Linked DNA regions of Homo sapiens. The protein of the gene in region 3 purifies or fractionates together with the protein of the main gene of each other region. This does not show direct contact. Each region holds a gene or a part of one and is shown on either strand. Other genes may lie near its edges.

Region 1 (7,000 bases), on a different chromosome or scaffold from region 3:
AAATCAATAAGCTTTTTAGGCCAACATGCTTTTAGCATCTCTCTGCAGAATTAGGGCTGGAGATTAAGGGAAAACGTAGCTAAAAGTCTTGTCTCCCAGAAGCTCACAGTGGCCGTTGGAAGATGTCAAAGCTGAGAGGTGGATGAAAGGAGCAGCAGTCCAGAGCCAGGCAGACCTGGCTGTTCCTCTCCCATGGTGCCATCCTCTTCCCTCCCTGGGAAGGGTGTAGGGAAGAAGGTTTCCTGGAGATCTAAGTCCTCCTGGAATGAGTATCCACCACCTAGAGAACATATGAGCTTAAACAAAGAGCTTGATCTCTGTAAATTAGTCATAATTCTTTTGGCTGAAGGGGAAAAATTTACCTCAAACCAGCCAACTCTAAAAGGGAAATTTATTGGCTTTCATAACTTGGAAACATGGAAGTGGGTAGCAAACTGAGTTAAAGGTTAGTCCAGGGTCTCCAAAGATGTCATCAGATGTGTCAGTCCATTTCTGTCTTTCCACCTCCCTCTATCACTCTCCTCTCCTTCTACATGTGGAAACCATGGCCACATTCAGCTCCAGGGCTACTTCACAAAGCTAGCTGCCCCAAAGCTTAGGGGGTTTTGCATTCCCTTAGAAAGACACTGAGAGGTCTGATTTTGGTCCACACTCTCATCTTTAACCAGCCAGTGTGGCAAAGGAATGAAGTATTATGATGGTAGGTCTGGGCCATATGCCTACACTACGGGGTATCCTCACTGTGGTCCAATGGAGGGAAGGAGAGCTGTTCCTCAAAGGAATTGAGACACTGTTTCCATAAAGAGGGTACAAAAACAAGAGTTGTCTTCTACATTCAGTCCTCCTATTTACAAAGTGTAGAAGTCATTTCTAGTCCCCAGGGTGATTATAAAGTTTAAATGCTATAAAGGGGTCAAAGCACTCATAAACTGCTATGTACAACACATAATAGTCACTGTATTTCTTCTTTCATCTGGTCTTCCTCTGGGTAACATGTAGGCAATGGGGTTATCATGTTCTTTTTTTCTGCTGACCTCAGGTCTACTACTCAACAGGATATTCTTCAAGGAAAATGAACCCCACACTAGGCCTGGCCATTTTTCTGGCTGTTCTCCTCACGGTGAAAGGTCTTCTAAAGCCGAGCTTCTCACCAAGGAATTATAAAGCTTTGAGCGAGGTCCAAGGATGGAAGCAAAGGATGGCAGCCAAGGAGCTTGCAAGGCAGAACATGGACTTAGGCTTTAAGCTGCTCAAGAAGCTGGCCTTTTACAACCCTGGCAGGAACATCTTCCTATCCCCCTTGAGCATCTCTACAGCTTTCTCCATGCTGTGCCTGGGTGCCCAGGACAGCACCCTGGACGAGATCAAGCAGGGGTTCAACTTCAGAAAGATGCCAGAAAAAGATCTTCATGAGGGCTTCCATTACATCATCCACGAGCTGACCCAGAAGACCCAGGACCTCAAACTGAGCATTGGGAACACGCTGTTCATTGACCAGAGGCTGCAGCCACAGCGTAAGTTTTTGGAAGATGCCAAGAACTTTTACAGTGCCGAAACCATCCTTACCAACTTTCAGAATTTGGAAATGGCTCAGAAGCAGATCAATGACTTTATCAGTCAAAAAACCCATGGGAAAATTAACAACCTGATCGAGAATATAGACCCCGGCACTGTGATGCTTCTTGCAAATTATATTTTCTTTCGAGGTAAGGCTTTTGGCATGTTGGTGTGGAAAGAATAGGATGACCACTAGACTTGGGTTAAAAACCTGGGTTGGCCACTTGTTTACTCTGTGACCTTGAATTCATATGTGATTTATCTCTCAAAACCTCACTTTTCCTATCTGTAAAATGGTTACCATGATACATAACTCATACAGTTATTGAGATTTAAAGTGAAAATGTATGTGAAATGAGCTTTATGAAGTCTATCATTTTCATTATTGGTGATTATCCTAACACAACATTGGTTATAGAGGTTGGAATGACATTTTGTTCCCATCACTTAGATGAGAAAAAAAAATCAGAGTGAGATTAACTGACTTACTCCAAGTTACAAAGCCCATCATTGACAGTCAGGACTGGAACACATTTCTCCTGGCCCTAGCACTGTGTGCTTTCCAGCACTTTAAGCAGACACCTGAGATGGTGATTGTGTTGATTATGGTGATGGTGATCACTTGGTGGGTCTCCTTATGTATGTATTATATAAATTCTCCTTATCAGACTTTATATATTTCCCAGATCTGATGGAGAGAGACAGAAAAAAAAGATGGAAGAATGTTTCCAATTTCAACTTTATCCCCCAACACCACACAGAACACATGTACACAAACAGGTTGGCCAAAATAGGTGAGAATCAGAGGCCAACACCCATCAGTCCAGACAAAATCACTGCTGGAGTGTCAGGAACATGGTACTAAATATAAAAAATTGAGGGTTCTCAAAATCCACAGGCAGATTGATGGCTAAAGAAGAGTCTACTCACATCAGACTCAATTAGCCCTCATTAATTGTAATGCAGTCCCCTCTGTTAGGACATAATCAGTGGGCTTTCTCAGGCTTAGGGGAACCTGAGCTTATGGTAGTCTTCTTTTCCCCTCTTAATTTGGCAGTCTAGTCCTGGCTTCTTTGGGAACTAATAATTGCACCTGAGCCCATATCATCAGAAATCTCCAGGACATGGCATGAGGGCAAGGACTTCCCTGATATCCCGGAATATCCCCTTTCACCCTGAATCTGTGTGGAGAGAGACTACTGGTTAGTTGGATTTAGTCACCTTTTTTCCCTTGGGATAACATGTCTGTTTGTCTTTCTTCAATCTAAGCCAGGTGGAAACATGAGTTTGATCCAAATGTAACTAAAGAGGAAGATTTCTTTCTGGAGAAAAACAGTTCAGTCAAGGTGCCCATGATGTTCCGTAGTGGCATATACCAAGTTGGCTATGACGATAAGCTCTCTTGCACCATCCTGGAAATACCCTACCAGAAAAATATCACAGCCATCTTCATCCTTCCTGATGAGGGCAAGCTGAAGCACTTGGAGAAGGGATTGCAGGTGGACACTTTCTCCAGATGGAAAACATTACTGTCACGCAGGTAAAGTGGGTGCCTAGCCCTCGCAGCTTTTTCCTTCTCTTGTCTTCCCTCTTATTTCTGCTGTCTGAGCTCTTACCTCATGGCCAAGTCCTCTTCTGGGCTCTATAATAAACTTATATCATGGTGAGAATTAGACTGGGGAACAAATCATAGGAATAGAGTGAAGTGCCTGGCTCTTTGAGGGAGATTCATCAAGACTGTGAGGGCGCAGTAGATGGAGTCTTACTGGAGGGCGGTGGTCAGGGAGGACTTCATAGAGGAGATAGCATTTGAGCCAAGTCTTCAAGGGTGAGTGGCAGTCTGTATGAAAGGGTGAGGAGCAAAGGAAACTGCAAGGACAAACACGGGCTGTAAAAGAGAGCTGTGAGTTGTGAGTAGAATGATGTTGTCAACTGTGGTGTCACAACAAAACCCATGAAGTATCCAAAGTAAGTTATACAAATAATAGTTGAAGAATAAAAGAGAGTAAATATTTTTCTTTTTAAAACATAAACTGATATTAGATTAATGCTAAGCCTACAGAATTCCTCCCAGGCACTTGCTTACTGATAGATTTTGGGGGAAAAGGTAAGAGTTGGTGTTGGGTTTAAGTCTTGGGGACTTAGTGTCAGCGTGGACATACATAGTGCCTTGAAAGTGGCTGGGCTAGTGGCCTCTAGTAGCCAGAGCAGTGAAGGGGATGTAGCAGAGTGGGCAGTTTCCACTTGGACAGGTGTCAGATGTCCTCTTCTCTGTTCTCTTTCCCTCTTCCACCTTGTCCCTGTCATCATTCCCCATGCATCTCCATAAAGGTATTTACTAAGAACCTCTGCCACACCTAACGTCCTGTCAGGCACCAAGGACGGTACCAAGAGAGGTACAGATGATGCTAGGACTGAGCTTAGTAACCCATGGGTGGTAACTGAACTGATGCAACTCTTTTCATGCAGAACACTGTCTTGGAGGCATTCCAGAATGCATCTCTTATATCTAGAGTGAGCTGCAGACTTAAGAAAGGGAAATTCTGGCCGGGCGCGGTGGCTCACGCCTGTAATCCCAGCACTTTGGGAGGCCGAGGCGGGCGGATCACGAGGTCAGGAGATCGAGACCATCCCGGCTAAAACGGTGAAACCCTGTCTCTACTAAAAATACAAAAAATTAGCCGGGCGTAGTGGCGGGCGCCTGTAGTCCCAGCTACTTGGGAGGCTGAGGCAGGAGAATGGCATGAACCCGGGAGGCGGAGCTTGCAGTGAGCCGAGATCCCGCCACTGCACTCCAGCCTGGGCGACAGAGCGAGACTCCATCTCAAAAAAAAAAAAAAAAAAAAAAGAAAGGGAAATTCTGATTCCGAATGCTTCCAATTAAGTCATGGTACTGGGATGGAGGAGCCAAGTAGCAGAGCATCCCAAGAGCGTTGCCATCCCTTGAGATCTGCATAGTCTCACCTGCCCTTCCCACTGGGAACCAGGGAGGTGGAAGGGTTGGCAGAGTCTGGCCACTGAAACAAAAGGAGGGGTCCAGGTTACAACCTTTAGCTGAGACCTGGTCTTCTCATCTATGGTGTGTGGCCATAATATCGCCAACACCACAGTACTCTTGAGAGAATTAAATGTGCCTTAGCACAGCATTGCCCCACAGAAAACATATCCAAATGCAAATTCCTCTTTCCTTCCCATTGTCTAAAGAGGCAGAGCTCCAAGGTTCTCAGCAGAACTTTTGAACTTCTGGTTTATTGAATGACAGGTGTCCTGCAAATCTGACCCTCTTACCCTCAGGTTGAAGCCCTAGGGTGGCTGCTCTTCCACTGCAGAAGATGTTCCCAGTGGGAGGGGCGGGTGAGGCTGTGCAGATCTCGAGGGATGGCAGCGCTCTTGGAATGCCCTGTCACTTAGCTCCCCCCTTCCATAAATGTGACTTTATTGAAAGCATTCAGAACCAGAATTTTCCTTTCTCAAGCCTGCAGCTCACTCTAGATATCAGAGATGCATTCTGCAATGCCTCCAAGCCATGTTCCGTGTGAAAGGAGTCACATCAGTTCAGTTCAGTTACCACCCACGGGTTCCCCCATGTTGTCTCAACATGGGGACATCCCCAAAGGGACTGACGTGTTTCAGCCTGCACTCTACAGATTTTTAGAGTTCACAGAGATGTCTTGAGAGATCTCCCTAGGGAACTGGGGGGTGTAGAACATGAAGAGAAGGTAAGAAATGGGAGGGATGCCAGGTCTTCCACCCCACTTCATCCAGAAGTCTGGCTTTGTGAGACATGGACTCCAGAATATGACATTTCCCGTAGGACTCAAATTACAGTGGCTTGAGACTCTGCAGTTGATTTGCTGGAACTCACTGTCCTGAGTGCACTCCACCCCTATCTCCAAGCCATGTCTGACAATTTCTCCATGGGGCTACAGCTCAGGTGCTACACTGGGGGCTTCACATTCCCCTCACTGAGGCCCTCTGCAGCCCCTGGTGCTGTGACCACCATCAGGCCACCACCAACCACACAGATGTTCCCTGGGCACTGCCACCATCTCTCTGGCTTCAGGCTTCATCTCCTTTTGCACCTTTACACAAGAGTGAAATAGAACCTTTGAGATTTTCTGTAGGCTAGTGCCAGACTTCCTGGAGGTTTGGGAATAACAGAACCAAAGCTCCTCACAGGGACCCAGGATAACTTACAGCGCACAGAAGCGGCGTCTTGTGAAGTCCAAGTGTAAGCTGCTCTCAGTGGCGTCTCGTGAAGTCCAAGTGTAGAGTGTAGGCTGCTCTCAGTGGTGTCTTGTGGAGTCCAGGTGTAAAGTGCAGGCTGCTCTCAGTGGCGTCTTGTGAAGTCCAAGTGTAGGCTGCTCTCAGCATCTCTTCCAGGGCACCTCCTTCCATTTTTCTAGTGCCTGGTCTGCCTCCCCCATCCCTCTGGGACTGCTTTCCGCATCTCCTTGACTTGAGGCCAGGCCTCCCCACCAGGAGGGCCATAGAAAGGAAGGTTCCTCTCACCCCAGGGATGTCTTGCCTACCCAGTCACTTCTGGCCTTGGAATGACAGACAGGGTATTGTCCACCTTCCCGAGAAGAAACTCCAAATCCTCTTGCAGGACAGGGGGCTTGCTCACCGTCCCCAGGGAATTACATTTCATTAGAACATGATAGGAACAAACATTCCTACCTTCTGAGCTCATTATTTCTGGGAGATAAGTGGTCAAGTTGCTTTGATCTACAGGTGGGAAGCCTAGTCCAGAGAGCTCAGTGGCCCGCTATGGGAGAGCAGAGGTGGACGGGCTATCCCTATGCATTCTTTCTGCAGTCCTCTCCAGACTGGAGGGCCTAGAAGACACTGAGCAGAAAAATCACCTTTTCCCTAAAAGAAGTAACCAAGTCAACAGACACACACCAACTTACATGTGTGTAGAACATGTCAGAATTTAGGCTTCGGATGACTTCCACCTGGCCTCTGTGCAGGAGGCAGACACCTGCTTTGGATTTGCATAATTTGAGGCCAGGTGCTGCTCTGATTTCCCCAGAGGAAAAGCTCTGTTTCCCAGGGTCCACCTTTAGGAGCAGAAAACTGCTGGTGGCTTTGAAATAGCCATTGTCCTGTTCAGAAGTGTCGAGGGTCCACTCCCAGCCTGGGTGCCCCCCACACATTTCCGTACATATTGGTATATGCACTCACCTGTCAGCACAGCTGCACTTAGTGCCTTCCCACGTTGGCACAAACTAAAGCCGATCTCCTCATTTACGCACTGGACCTACGGCCCCCTGCTACTCAGGAACATCACCCTAGAAATCCTCTCCTCACTTTCCTACATCAGCATATGTTTTTCTCTCTTCTGAATCATTTCCATCAGATACAAAGATGCCCTTATCTTTCCTATCATGAAACCTCGCAGGGGGCCAGGGAAAACTTACAGCTCATAGAAGTGGCTTCT
Region 2 (4,984 bases), on a different chromosome or scaffold from region 3:
TGAGACCCATAGTTGGGAGCCTTAGCTGGGAGGATTGCTTGAGCCTGGGAGGTTGAGCCCTCTTTGAGCCATGATCTCATCCCTGTACTCCAGCCTGGGCAACAGAGCAAAACCCCTGTCTCAAAAAGTAAATAAATAAAACTAAATAAACACCAACTCCTTGACCTTCATCTTTGAATTTCTCTTTCCTACAGATGCCCCACCTGGATGGGTTCAGGCTTGGGGACATTTACAAGCTGTGTGACCCTGGGGGTATTTGTTCCTTCCCTAAGTCTCGCTTTACTTATTTTAAAAATCAGGACAGCAATCCTAGTGTCATGGAGCTGCGGTGAGGCTCGATGTGCTGCTGTAGAGCAGGTGTCCATGGATAGCGCTGTCCCTGTGCCCCCGGGTGGCATTCTCAGTCCTTGCCTGGTACAGGGTAAGAGGAGATCATGGAAGGAAATGAGTAGCCCCTTCATCCCTCAACAGCACCCCAAAGAATCCACTCCTCGAAAAAGTTCAAAGAAACACTAGCAATTTATTGATTTTCTCTATTTCCAAAAAAAGCAAATACATTAGTGTATCACACAAGGAAACTGGGCCTGGCCGGCACAAGGTTCCTCTACAAACATGAAGCAAGGGGAAGGTGGGCTACAGGGAAGCTCCAAGATCCCTCACAGCAGCCCCCGGCTTCCCTTCCCTGCCCACCCCAGCCGCAGTCTTGGTCCTGCCAGCCAGTTCAGCCAGATTCCAAGGTGGACATGCAGACAGCAACACTGCCTCTTGGGTCCCCAGGAGGAGTGTGGAGTCAGGGCTGCTAGTGTGGTCCCCACTGCAGAGGTGGCTGGTGGCCAATGACTGGATTTGTCATTGGCCGCTAGCACAGGAGATCCCAGGGCAGAGTCTGTGTCCTTCCTCATTTGGCCCCAAATTGGAACTCCTTATTTTGGGCATTGGCCCTGGTAGTGTGAGGCCAATGTGGACTTAAAATCCTGAGACGTGTGTCGGCTACATGAAGCCTGGCAAGCTCCTTGTTCTCTTTCTCTAGGAAAAGCCCCTCTCAGTTTTGCCCCTCTCAAAGTGACAGGCCTGGGTCAGAGGCCCGGGTGACCTGAGCTGGCCTGAGAGGGAATGGGCAGTGTCACCAAAGTCAGCCCTGCCCTAATAGTCTGCCTCAGCCCCTGAGGTCTGGAAGGCTGCCTGGTTCCCAGGGCAGGGGCTGGGCCCATGGGGCTCTTCATTCTTTGAAGGTGGGAGGAACATGAGGCGAGGGGATGCAGGAGGCCAGGGTAGTGCTAAGGGGAAGGGGCATCCGCCTGGGCTGGTAAGGTTCACATGCAGCGGTGCATTTCCCCTCCCGCCCTGACCGGACTGCACAGCCCCCAGCCGGGGGAGCCCTAAAGCCAAGGACTTGTGTCTCCACTTTCCTCCAGAAAACATAAGCCGCATGAGGACAGGGATGTGGTCTGTGTTCTTCCCTGATGTAGTCTAAGTGCTTAGGACACTGCCCCGCACAGATTGGTATGCCATACGTATTTTTTAGGAGAAGAATTCCTCTGGGTTCTGATGACAACAAAGGAGGCCCCTGAAACCTATGCCCAGGACAGTCCAGGGATCCAGGCTCCCACGTGGGTCCCTGAGAGGGAGAGGTGAGCCAGGAGTGGGCCTCCCAGTGTGAACAGAAGCAAGGGAGGGTATGACAGACCCACAGCACCACAGCACAGCTGGCTAACAGCCGGGGACACCTCTCGGAGGACAGCGTCCTCACATGTCTGGCGTCCCCCATCTCAGTTATCATACTGAGTCCACATCAGTGTTTTCCAGCCTGAATGCTGGGGCAAGAGGTGGGTTTGGACTCGGGGGTGGTGCAGAAGAGGAAGACTTGGGAGGAGGCTGAGAAGGGGTGAGGAGGAGGAGCATCTTATATTCTTCTAGAGAAGGGCACAGACCAGGAAGTTAATTCCTCTCTAACACCAGCAATGCTAGCATGGAGGTAGAAGCTGGAAGGAGGAAGGCTTGGGAGCGCTGGGCTCTGCTCTGTCTTAGTGTACACCAAGGGATGTCCACACAGGTTTTCTCATAAGGCCCTCGGGAGCCCTCCTGCTGCTGCTGGTCTGAAGTGCACAGAGTCTGGGGGCTCGACGTGGCTGATACCCCTAATAGCCCTGTTTATCACATCCCCTGTGGGTTTCACAGAGTGGAGACAAGACAGCTGGGGTCAGGGGAAGTGGGGCATGGCCCCTGGCTGAGATGTGAGCTTGCCGGTACCGGTACCCTGATATGGCACTTTCCTTTCCTAGTCTACCCAAACTCCCCCCGTCCAAGTCTCCTGGGACCCCAAACACTCCCTCAATTGACTCACAGCAGGCTTGGTGGAAACATCTTCCTGGTTAATTTCTATACCCCAACTCCATCCCACTAGAAGCCGGAATAGGTATATGCCCAGCCCCACTTGTTCCCCTCTCCACTGGGAATATGAAGACCAGCCATTCCCAGAACAGCTCTTGGGAAAGAGCTGCAATAAAATAGCTTTTCTTAAAAAAATCATTTTTTACCTTCTTTCTCCTGCAACAAGTAGATTACAAGACCTCTGAATGCAGGGCCTTTGCAGGCTGAGCCTGCTCTGATGGGCACACAGCCCAAGAGGGTGGAAGGCACCATCTTTCAGCTCCTACTCCTCTGAGCAGGCCTCATTTGGCAAAGTATGCGAGAGTGTCCTGCTGTCCTCTGGAACCCCACACCTACCCAACCTCAGTCCTTGTGGCGCTGCTGGAGGGGTGACATTACAGACACCCCAGATTCTCCCATGAGATACACCAGACCTCCCTTCCTGGAAAGCAGCCTTGTAAGTGGGGAGGCTGGCCCAGCCCCAGTTACTCCTGCACCCCTGGAGACCACTGGTAGGAAGCCTGCAGGACTCCTCTGAGGGCCTGACTGCAGTGATGGCCCCCTTGCCCTGGCACCACACATTTCAGGAATTATGAGCAGCTCACCAAAAAGCACATGTTGTCCTTGCCTATGAGTAAGAAACACAGGAGAGTCCTTTTCACCACCTTATGAGCTGCAACAAAATAGCTTACCTAGCTTTTTGCAGTTTGTGGTTATGCTTTAAGACACTCACACACACACACATGCACGCGCACATGCATGCACACACTTACATTATACACATATATATACCATTTCTCAGAGGAAGAAATATTGACATCACATATAAGCCCCTTTAACTCAAGAAAGCCCCCACCGCCCCAACCTCCCTAACCCCCATTGCCTGCCAGTTTCCCCAAGGAAAAAAAAAATCTAAAAATCTTTCCACTATCCACAGTTTTTAGGTTTCTTCTCAGTTTCTTGTGAACTTTCCCAAATACTGCATAGGATGGACAGAAAACCCCATCCAGCGAGGCCTGAGGGCTTCTCAGCTGGGTCATATCTTCCTGGAAAAGGAGAAAGTCCTCCAGTTAGTGTTTACAGTGAGATGTTTCCACACCACAAGCCCAGCCTGTACTGCCACCCTCTTCTCACATCGGCCCTCAAGTGTGCCCTGGCCTGAGACTGGATTCAAGGCTGCCCTAGACACATTTATAGATTGCCCTGTGGATTCAGAAGCTTGTCAGCTTTGTCTGCCACCCTGCCACAGTGTCCCCTGCCCACCGTCTTCCTCACTAAGAAAGAAGGTGGTGTTCATTAAGGATTTGCCAAACCGAATCTCTTTCCCCTTTTCTGCCTTCAAGTTGTTGCAGCTTGTTTACTAGGAGAGGATATCTGAAGTCTTATTTAACCTTCATCCAGACCAAAGTTACAGTCCTCTCTCCCCACCAGGGATTGGGGTGGGGGGTGCTGGCAGACAGCCTGGTTAAGAGGTCCCCCTTAGCTCAGGAGACCCTGTCTTGATCCCAGGCTATTTGCAGATGGCTCCATGCTGGGCTGCCCCTGAGGCCCCTCTCTAGGGGTGATGACATCTGGCTGGAGTATCTCTATTTGTGATTCTCAGTTTACCCGCATCAGAAACACTTTAGACGCTTGTTTAAAAATAGACTTTCCTGGATCCCACTCCAGGGCTATTGAGTCAGAATAGCTGGGGCTGGGCCAAGTGTGTGCATTTTAGCAAGCAACCCATATAATTCCAATGAACACTGAGGTTGGCAAGCCTTCATCATAGGATTGGTTCTGAGTTTTGGGGGCCTAGAATCATCAGCTGGAAATAAACTTGTCCACACTGGGCATGTGCAGAGAGTGGAAAGTGAATTATAAAAGGATAAAAAAGTGAGCTGTGTATGGCCAAGCCCAGAATGACATATTCTAGAACTCCAGTTATCCATATTGTAGAACTCACTGTAGTCCATGTGAAGGGCACCACCTGTGTTGTTCAGTGTACAACCCACACATTTGTACCTAGCAGTCCTGCCCAGACCCTCTGACCCCTCTGAAACTCCCAGGACATTATACACCCCTAACGTCCTGAGGGTGGGACAAACTACGCCCCCAGCCAAGCAGTCTACACAACTGCTTGTGTTGTCCAGAGCCAGGCAAAAGGATGCTTCTGTGTCCCTGGGAGCACAGGCCTAGCCCTTGTCTCTGAGACTGGCTGAGGCTGTTGCAGTGGTCCCAGAGGCATCCCTGAGGGTGGGGTGATTCTTACCTGCAAGCCTAACTTGCTTGGACAGTCTCTTCTTAGAATCGGGAGGTGAAGTTCCTGAGGCTGTTGGCCCCAGCTAAGGTTCCCAGCATGTTCCTATCGAAACCTTGCTGCAAAGGGAGAAACAGCAACCAAATGACACAAAACTGTGTGGGGCTTGCTGTGGGGTCAGACACTGTCCACTGCCCTCCCAGAGCAACCTCGGCTCACACAGCCTCTCTCTTATCACTAAGTACATGTGTCAGGGCGAAAACTGGCCTCAGTAACTGTGTAACAAAACATAATAACTCTCCATGAGTCGGTGCAATGTGTTTGAACTTCCACTGACACATGTGAATTTCCTACTTGCATTTGCAGAAACCTGAG
Region 3 (8,418 bases):
CTGGTCAGGCTTCAAATCCCACCTTCCACACCTGTTCCTGGGAGATGAAGTTTGTACCCATGGTCATCTGTCCCTCTGCCACTCCATTCAGATGTGTCCACGTCTCCATGGCCCCTCCATCCAAGAGAAAGCAACACACATGTGCAACCAGGAAACATACAAAAGTGCCTTGCAGCCTTGTGGATCCTTACCGGCCAGATAGCCATGGGCTGTGGAATGGAACATAAATATCACACAATGCAGTTTTCCTTGGCAGCAAAAATGAGCAAACAAATAACATACATAATAAAATGAATAATTTCACAGGCACAATGAAGAGTGAACAAAACCAGGCACAAATGAGAACACCCTGCGTGATTCTATTTATACAAAGTTCAAGAATACGCAAAATGAACCTGTTGTAATGGAAGGCAAAACAGTGTGATCTCCCAATGAGATACCATCTCACACCAGTTAGAATGGCAATCATTAAAAAGTCAGGAAACAACAGGTGCTGGAGAGGATGTGGAGAAATAGGAACACTTTTACACTGTTGGTGGGACTGTAAACTAGTTCAACCATTGTGGAAGTCAGTGTGGTGATTCCTCAGGGATCTAGAACTAGAAATACCATTTGACCCAGCCATCCCATTACTGGGATATACCCAAAGGATTATAAATCATGCTGCTATAAAGACACATGTACACGTATGTTTATTGCAGCACTAATTCACAATAGCAAAGACTTGGAACCAACCCAAATGTCCAACAATGATAGACTGGATTAAGAAAATGTGGCACATATACACCATGGAATACTAAGCCATAAAAAATGATGAGCTCATGTCCTTTGTAGGGAGGGACATGGATGAAATTGGAAATCATCATTCTCAGTAAACTATCGCAAGGACAAAAACCAAACACCGCATGTTCTCACTCATAGGTGGGAATTGAACAATGAGAACACATGGACACAGGAAGGGGAACATCACACTCTGGGGACTGTGGTGGGGTGGGGGGAGGGGGGAGGGATAGCATTAGGAGATATACCTAATGCTAAATGACGAGTTAATGGGTGCAGCACACCAGCATGGCACATGTATACATATGTAACTAACCTGCACATTGTGCACAGGTACCCTAAAACTTAAAGTATAATAATAATAAAATAAAATAAAATAAACAGTGTGATCTCCAGTGTGGGGTGGGTGGTACGGCCTTGAAGGGGCAAAGGGAGCCTAATGGGCACTGCAAATATTCTGTCTTGATCCAAGCAGTTTATGAACATAAACATTCACACAAAGATCTGTGCATTTTCGCAGATGCACATTATTCTGCAGTACAATTGTTCTTAATTTTTTAAAGCCCAGCATGAACCAACTGGTAGCCCAAGGGCAAGGAGCAGCCCGTGGGGCAGCCTCCTGAGCACAGGGCTGGACAGAGAGGGCGGGGGAATGGACCTGGTGGAGAGCTAACCAGTGAGATGCTCAGAAAATGCTTGCTGAGTGGGACAGCAATCATTTACACCTTAGTATAAATAACTATAGAAAGTTTTTTCAAACAGGGAGGCTGGAAGCTATACGGAAATAGGAGGACACTTGGCTTTGGCAAATAGCAGAGCAAATTGAAATAAATTATTTGCCTTACTGACCATTCTGCTGAAGATGCCCTGGCTATGTGTTTAACGGTGTTTGGATTAGTCCTCTTCCAGTGCTTGATGGTTCACAATGTATTTCAAAAGCATTACCTCACTCGACTCTCACTGCACCCCACTGAAACTTGGTAAAAAGTGCATGTCATCAGGGATCAGTAGGAATAAAGAAACTGAAGCTCAAAAAGGAAAGTTCCCACAGTGACAGAATTTGAAAGTAGCAAGGCCAAAGTTCAGGGATGATTGTTTCCTCCACCAAAAAAAAACAAAAACAGAAATTGGATTAGAAACTGGAGTTTCTTTGAACCCTAAGCACCGATGTTTATAACGTATTGCGGTAAGTGGGAATCAATTTCTGTTTCAGGCACGCGCTCTTGGCTAGGAGTAGGGAGTGGAGCCGTTCATTGCTGTCGTGGTCAGTCCCACTCACGCTGCTGGAGCTGACCAGGCCGGCCCTTCCCTCATGGCATTTGAGTCTCACACACCCTGTGAGACAGACAGGCCGCTGCCCTGTGACAGATGAAGATCTGAGGCTTGGGGTAGTTATGTGACTGGCCCAAGGTCACCCAGCTAGAGGAGGCAAAACCAGGCTAGGAACCTAGGTCTCTGCACTCCAGAGCATGGGCTGTGCCCAGCACATGCTGAGACTCGGGGAGTGGGGAGGCATCCATACTTTGGAGAAAGAGCAGAGCCCACTGTGGCATCACCCCACAGATACTGCTGGGAGCCGAGGGAAGGCAATGCTGAGGTCCCTCCCTGAGGGTGTGGGTGTCAGGTGGAGCCCACTGTTCACAGCTGCACAGGCTCTGTGACAACAAACATTTGGTGAATTGAACTAAAAAGCTGGGTTCCCAATCCTGGTTGCCCGGGCACAGAGTAGTTGTTGAACATGGATGAATGAAACCTGTCGAGTGAGAGTGGAATGAATTTGTGTGCTGGAGACGAGAATATGCTGGAAGGCTGGGCATGACTCGCACTGTTGTCTTCTCCATCATCTGTTGGGTTTGCAGCCAAGTCCCCTGGAGCTCAGTCTGCCCTCTGCCCTCTCCCACCTCTCCCCACCACCCTCCTAGCGCAGCACTCCAGGATTCCCACTCAGCAGCAGGGCAGTGACCGACTTTTACTCCCAGCCTGAAGATCTGCATGAGAACCAATGCACACCAGGGCTATGCTGCCTCCGTGACCAAGGGGTCCCCAGGGCCTGGTCTCACCACCATCTCCGCTTCCACCACAGACTTGCTCCCGTCCAGGATTCCTCATCTCTCCAGTCTCCCAAGCTCAAAACCCCAGGGTGATCTCCTGCTGGGTCCCTTCTGCCATCGCCATGGCCTGGAAATGTTTGCTAGTCCCCACCCCACCCCCATGTCCACACTCAGTGCCCAGGTCTTTATTTTTATTTTGTTAGAAGTGATAATGTCACTATGGTTATGTATGAGATCATGTCCTTGTTTCTCCAGAGATGCAAGCTAAAGGATTTAATTTGGAAGGGTTCAAATTCAAATATAAAGAACAAAGAAATATGTCAAAATGTTAACAGTGGTTGAATCCAGGGGCTGGGTGTAAGTGTGCTCATTGTACTGTTCTCTCTTATCTATCTATCTATCTATCTATCTATCTATCTATCTATCTATCTTATATATAGATAGATAGATATATACACACAAACAGATTTTTTTCTTTCTTTAGAGAGAAAGTCTCACTCTGTTGCCCATATTGGAGTGCAGTGACATGATCACAGCTCACTGCAACCTCAAACTCCTGGGCTCAGGTGATCCTCCCTCCTCAGCCTCCTGAGTAGCTAGCACTACAGGTGCTCGCCGTCATGCTTGGCTAATTATCGTTATTTTTGTGTAGAGATAGTAGTCTCACAGTGTTACCCAGGCTGGTCTCAAATTCCTGGCTTCAAGCCATCCTCCTGTTTTGGCCTCCCAAAGTACTGGGATTACAGATGTAAGCCAGTACCCTCAGCCCTGTTCTTTCTATGTATCTCTATATTTGAACTTTTTCACAATAAAAAGGTTAGAGGTAAGTTGACCTGAATTGATTGGACCCATTTTCTCATCCATCACATTGGGGCTGTGAGTGGGAGGGGCAGTGAATGACCTCCTAAAGCTGTGTCCGCTCAGTGCCTCTGGGGGAAGCTGCCCCCTGTGAGCCTGGAGCTGGGTGTTCCCAGCAGGCGGAGTCCTTGACTCTGGAAGGCAATTGCCTTTGGCTTCAACAGTCCTGCAAGTCACAAGGCTTGTTGACCACGGTGACCCTTTCTGAGAGCCAGCGGAGGAAGAGGGCGGGCATAGGGTCAGGTCTTAAGAGATCAGGTCAGTCTGCTCAAACCAGGTGGGCTCAGGAGGAGCCGGCGAGGGTCCCGCTGCAGCTCCCGAAACGCTGTTTCCAGGCGGCAGTCAGCAGTTGGGCACGAGAGGATATCCTAGCAAGCCTCCATCCCAGAAAGTTACACCTCTTACTGCCCGAGTCCCACCCCTCAACACTGAGCCCACCTCTTCAGTCCTGTAGTGAGGGGTTCTGGGAACCCCTTGTAACTGCCCGCCTTCCTCGGAGGTCTCAGAGGCCCTAATTGCGTCTTCCGATGGGAACAACCATGAGAGCAGGGTGTGGACGGAAGTCCCCCAGCCCCAGCGGGGTTCACTCTTTGCCTCCTCACTCTGCGAGGGTCCCTTACTACAGCTAAAAGGCAATTCATGCAGTCCAAAGGCTCCTTTCCCCTCCCGTTCTGCATGCCCTTCTCACTGTCCCCAAATGCTCATGACATGGCCTTGAGAGCAGCGCAGCGGGCAGGAAGCCCAGGCGCCTCGGAGAACCTGAAGGGCTGCAGGTCCCGGTGTCTGCGGCAGCTTCCGCATCCCTGCAGGGAACCAGCGGCTCGCTGAGCCTGGGGCTGGGCTCTGGGGGACTCCAGAGCTGGAGGCAAGTGGCGCTCACATCCGTCTCCTCACCTGCCCCACCCGTGGCCTGGGTTTAAAATCCACATACCCGTCTTTCCGCGGCCAAAGTGATGCTGCCAGGATTGGTTATGACCCCAACTGCCCCGACCCCCAGAAGTGCAAAACGAACAGGCTGGCAAGTGACCAAAAGAGACCCGGGGAGCATCTGGGCTTCCAAGGTCCTCGGTACGGCCCAAGGCAGCGAAGGACGCGCGGCTCCAGGCTGCGGGAGCCAGGACGACCGGGGGCTCCCAGAGCGCGAAGTCGCGATCCTCGGCGGTGGAGAGCTCGTGCCAAAACGTCCTCCCCTGCGCCAGTCAGGCCTTCGCGGGGCTGGCAGGCGGGCGGGGGCGGGGCCGCCGCACTTTAAGAGGCTGTGCAGGCAGACAGACCTCCAGGCCCGCTAGGGGATCCGCGCCATGGAGGCCGCCCGGGACTATGCAGGAGCCCTCATCAGGCGAGTGCCCCGCGTCCCCCTGATTGCCGTGCGCTTCCAATCGCCTTGCGTTCGGTGGCCTCATATTCCCCTGTGCGCCTCTAGTACCGTACCCCGCTCCCTTCAGCCCCCTGCTCCCCGCATTCTCTTGCGCTCCGCGACCCCGCGCACACACCCATCCGCCCCACTGGTGCCCAAGCCGTCCAGCCGCGCCCGCGGGCAGAGCCCAATCCCGTCCCGCGCCTCCTCACCCTCTTGCAGCTGGGCACAGGTACCAGGTGTGGCTCTTGCGAGGTGCGCGGGCGTCTGCAAACCAGGTGACAGCTGGCGAGTGGCTGCATGCATCTCTGGCCGCTGCTGCAGTCGCGGGCGCAGAAGAGGGTCCGGTCCCAGGAACCCCGAGCAAAGCTTCCGCGATGCGAGGGGACCGGGCTTCTGGGGGTCCTGGAAATCACAACGGGAGCTGGGCGCGGGAGGGGCCCAGGCTTGGCCCCTCCTGGAAGCGCGGGCTCTGGTCTCCGAGGGGAGGCCCCAACCGTCCGGCGGAGCCCTCCAGGTTGGTGGTGCTGGGAGAAGCGCTCCTCCTTGCCTCCGGGTCCAAGGGCGGAGACGCTGCCTGGGGAGCAGGGGGGACAAGGGGCGGGTGGACCCTGAGGAGTCTTCCCTGCGCTTCGCACCCGCTCGTGGTCGAACAGGCAGCATTGGCTATTTTCCTGCTTGGGTTAATATTCATATCCCAACAGACCCAAGCCAATTCTTGGTAAAATCCTAAGTCATTGCGTGGCAGCAACTGTAAAGTAAGGTCTAAGAGGGAGATCGTGTTTCTCTGAAGATCAAGTACCTGGAAAAGGATAGAGAACCATTTGCGGGCTTGAAGGTGCAGGCGTTCAGCGGCGCCGGGTCCCACTGTGTGTGCTACGTGTGGCGGGCAGAGAGACTACATGTGTGAAAGGGAGCGGTCCGGCTACGAAACGCAATCTATGAGCTTCCAATCCCGGGTTCTTAAATGGGAGCTGTTGTAGACACTGCAGGTTAGAAGCATCTTTCTCTTTAAAAATAAGCCCACAGTACAAGTCGGGGCGGTGGCAGGGGGACGCTGAGAAACACCTGCTTCGTGTATGGTCATTAACACGCTTAGGCCTAAAGGTCAGGGCCCTGTATCTTTTGCGTTCTTCCAGAACCATCCACACCACAGTCCCACTTCCAGGAGGGGAGGTCTTAGCAGTTTGGAATGCGTCCTTCCAACCACTTTTCCAGTGAATTCACAACACACCCACTGTTCCTCCGGAGCATGGGGGAAGGAGGTGTGGGCTGACTCGCACTAACCAATCCTGGTTGGCCTCTGAGCAGGATTCAGGCTGAGCCTGTCCCTGCCTCTGACTATTATAACAGCTCACCAAAATCCAAAATGCATCTGTGTGGGGTCTCTGTGAGGTCGTGTGAAGTGGAAGTGACTTGCTTATGAGCTGTTGACAAATGAAACATTGGGAAACCTTGAGTCTCCTAGGACACATTCCTTCCAGCTTGGCTCATCCCAGGAGTGAATGACTCTACCTGTTATGGACAAGCTGTTGCTGCAGTTCTTTGAAATCTACCTGCTTCCAGGCTGAACTACTGTCATTCTGTGAAATCTACCTGCTCCCAGGCTGAACTACTGTCATTCTGTGAAATCTACCTGCTCCCAGGCTGGACTACTGTCATTCTGTGAAATCTACCTGTTACCAAACTAAACTGGAAGAAAACAATCTGTAATTCTTGTTGAAGGGAAAACACCTTTTCTTCCCTGCCCCTCTCTAAAACCCTGTCCGGGCAAAAGAGCCAGAGGCCAGGTCCTAACATATTTGCTAATTGTGCTCTTGCTGGACTTCGGCTTCCTCTCAGGGTTCCTTAATTTAAACCAGGTCCAGGATGTCATAATTCTGTCTTTATTAGTAACTACATTTTACCAAGGAAAGAACCGAATCAATGTGCACAAAAATTTTTAAAAATCAGGTACTTGTAGTCAGTGGTGAAACCTTAACCCAGGCATTTGTTAGTCAGCTAGAATCGTTAGGGGCCTTGGTCCTGAGGAAAGCAGCCTGAGGTCTCACAACAAAGCTCCAGACATCAAGGAGGTCCACATGCAGGTTGACTATCACAGACAAAGTCTGCTCTGTTCCTGTGTTCTGCCAGTGATAACATTCCTGCCAAACGCTGAAGTTGTTATGAAGCTGGTACATGTTATAAGCTTCGTGTGAAATGGCTGCTTTCATAGCTATCTAGCACATTTTTCCTTTCCTTGAACAAGGAACTCTAGGTTTTGTGCTGCTATTTCAGTACAAATTTCACCAGTCTTCTTAGTGACATTAGTAAGGAATTAAGTATGCTACAAGTCAATCTCTCAGCTTTCTGCTTCTTGAATTTAAATTCTTATTTTAACGAAACTGCAAAGTGTTCAAAGACTTCATGGTCATGTATTGAACACTTGATAATGTCAAGCCTTTAGGTAGCTTGCGAAGAACTGAGCCATGAACCAGGCAGTCCTTGTCGGGGCGAGTTTATCTGGGGGGTAGGTGTGCTCCCACCTGCATATGTCACGTCCAAGAGCCCTAGGGGAGCCGGGCAGCAGGAAGTCTCGTCAAGGCAGCACTTGCTTCCCTGCTTCCTGCCACTGACCCCACCATCCTCTGACACTGTCTCTACAGCTCAGGGACTCTTCTCCAGGCCTGTGGAGCACTTTCCCAGCCCTCCCTTCCTTCTCTGCGTGGCTGTGCTTGACCTCACACTTCCCTCCTTGGCATTCCCTGCTGCTCTTGGTGACAGTGCTCGGTTGGCTTCTGTCCAATTCCTGTGTACTGCTTCTTCCTCCCACGGTGGCTGCCTCTTTTTCTTCCTAATGATGAGATGCAGAGTTCCCTCAGCCATCACTGCCCCCTGAATATTCCCAGGCACTATTTTACACAGCCTGTACTGCTGCCCCCTCACCCATGACACCAAAATATTTCACTTTGAGGAAGACCTTAATACTGGGCCCTTTTCCTCCATAGGTGGCATGTAAAGAAAGCTTTTTAATTCTCTGTACGGCTCAGGTTTGTTTTACTGGAGAAGAGTTCAGGTCTACTGTCAGTCTGTGGCTTGTTGGTGTATTTCACACACTTTTGGAAGTTGGCGGCGCCCTGCCTCCCTCGGGGCAGAATACAAAACCTTCCCTTCCCACCTGTTCCTGAGAGACATGCCGTTTCACAGCGTTCTATGAAGTCTGACTTTTCCTCTCTGGATTTCTGTGAAACAGCCTACTTCCTTAAACAAACTGTTTCCTTATATCTTCCCTGTTAGAGGGTTATTTCCCTTTCTGTTTCCTGTGGTTGTGTGCCCCCACTTTCACAGGAATTAGGAGCGGCAGTTCTCATGTGTGGTGTGTCTAAACGCAGG

Evidence for each region.
Region 1: the proteins of CIDEA (region 3) and SERPINA12 purify together in Homo sapiens (affinity purification with mass spectrometry; 3 studies listed by BioGRID and IntAct, with this or other methods). This does not show direct contact.
Region 2: the proteins of CIDEA (region 3) and PKP1 purify together in Homo sapiens (affinity purification with mass spectrometry; 3 studies listed by BioGRID and IntAct, with this or other methods). This does not show direct contact.

What each region holds. Positions count from the first base shown.
Region 1 is NC_000014.9:94,492,470-94,499,469, reverse strand, and holds part of SERPINA12 (serpin A12 precursor), read left to right. Parts: intron 1-1,039; 5' UTR 1,040-1,072; coding exon 1,073-1,706; intron 1,707-2,826; coding exon 2,827-3,097; intron 3,098-7,000. UniProt on the Homo sapiens protein: Adipokine that modulates insulin action by specifically inhibiting its target protease KLK7 in white adipose tissues.
Region 2 is NC_000001.11:201,328,506-201,333,489, reverse strand, and holds the end of PKP1 (plakophilin-1), read right to left. Parts: intron 4,729-4,984; coding exon 4,654-4,728; 3' UTR 4,622-4,653; intron 3,417-4,621; 3' UTR 501-3,416; downstream 1-500. UniProt on the Homo sapiens protein: A component of desmosome cell-cell junctions which are required for positive regulation of cellular adhesion.
Region 3 is NC_000018.10:12,249,394-12,257,811, forward strand, and holds the start of CIDEA (lipid transferase CIDEA), read left to right. Parts: upstream 1-4,967; 5' UTR 4,968-4,990; coding exon 4,991-5,028; exon of another isoform or gene 5,029-5,423; coding exon of another isoform or gene 5,424-5,563; intron 5,564-5,619; exon of another isoform or gene 5,620-6,038; intron 6,039-6,185; exon of another isoform or gene 6,186-8,063; intron 8,064-8,418. UniProt on the Homo sapiens protein: Lipid transferase that promotes unilocular lipid droplet formation by mediating lipid droplet fusion. Lipid droplet fusion promotes their enlargement, restricting lipolysis and favoring lipid storage.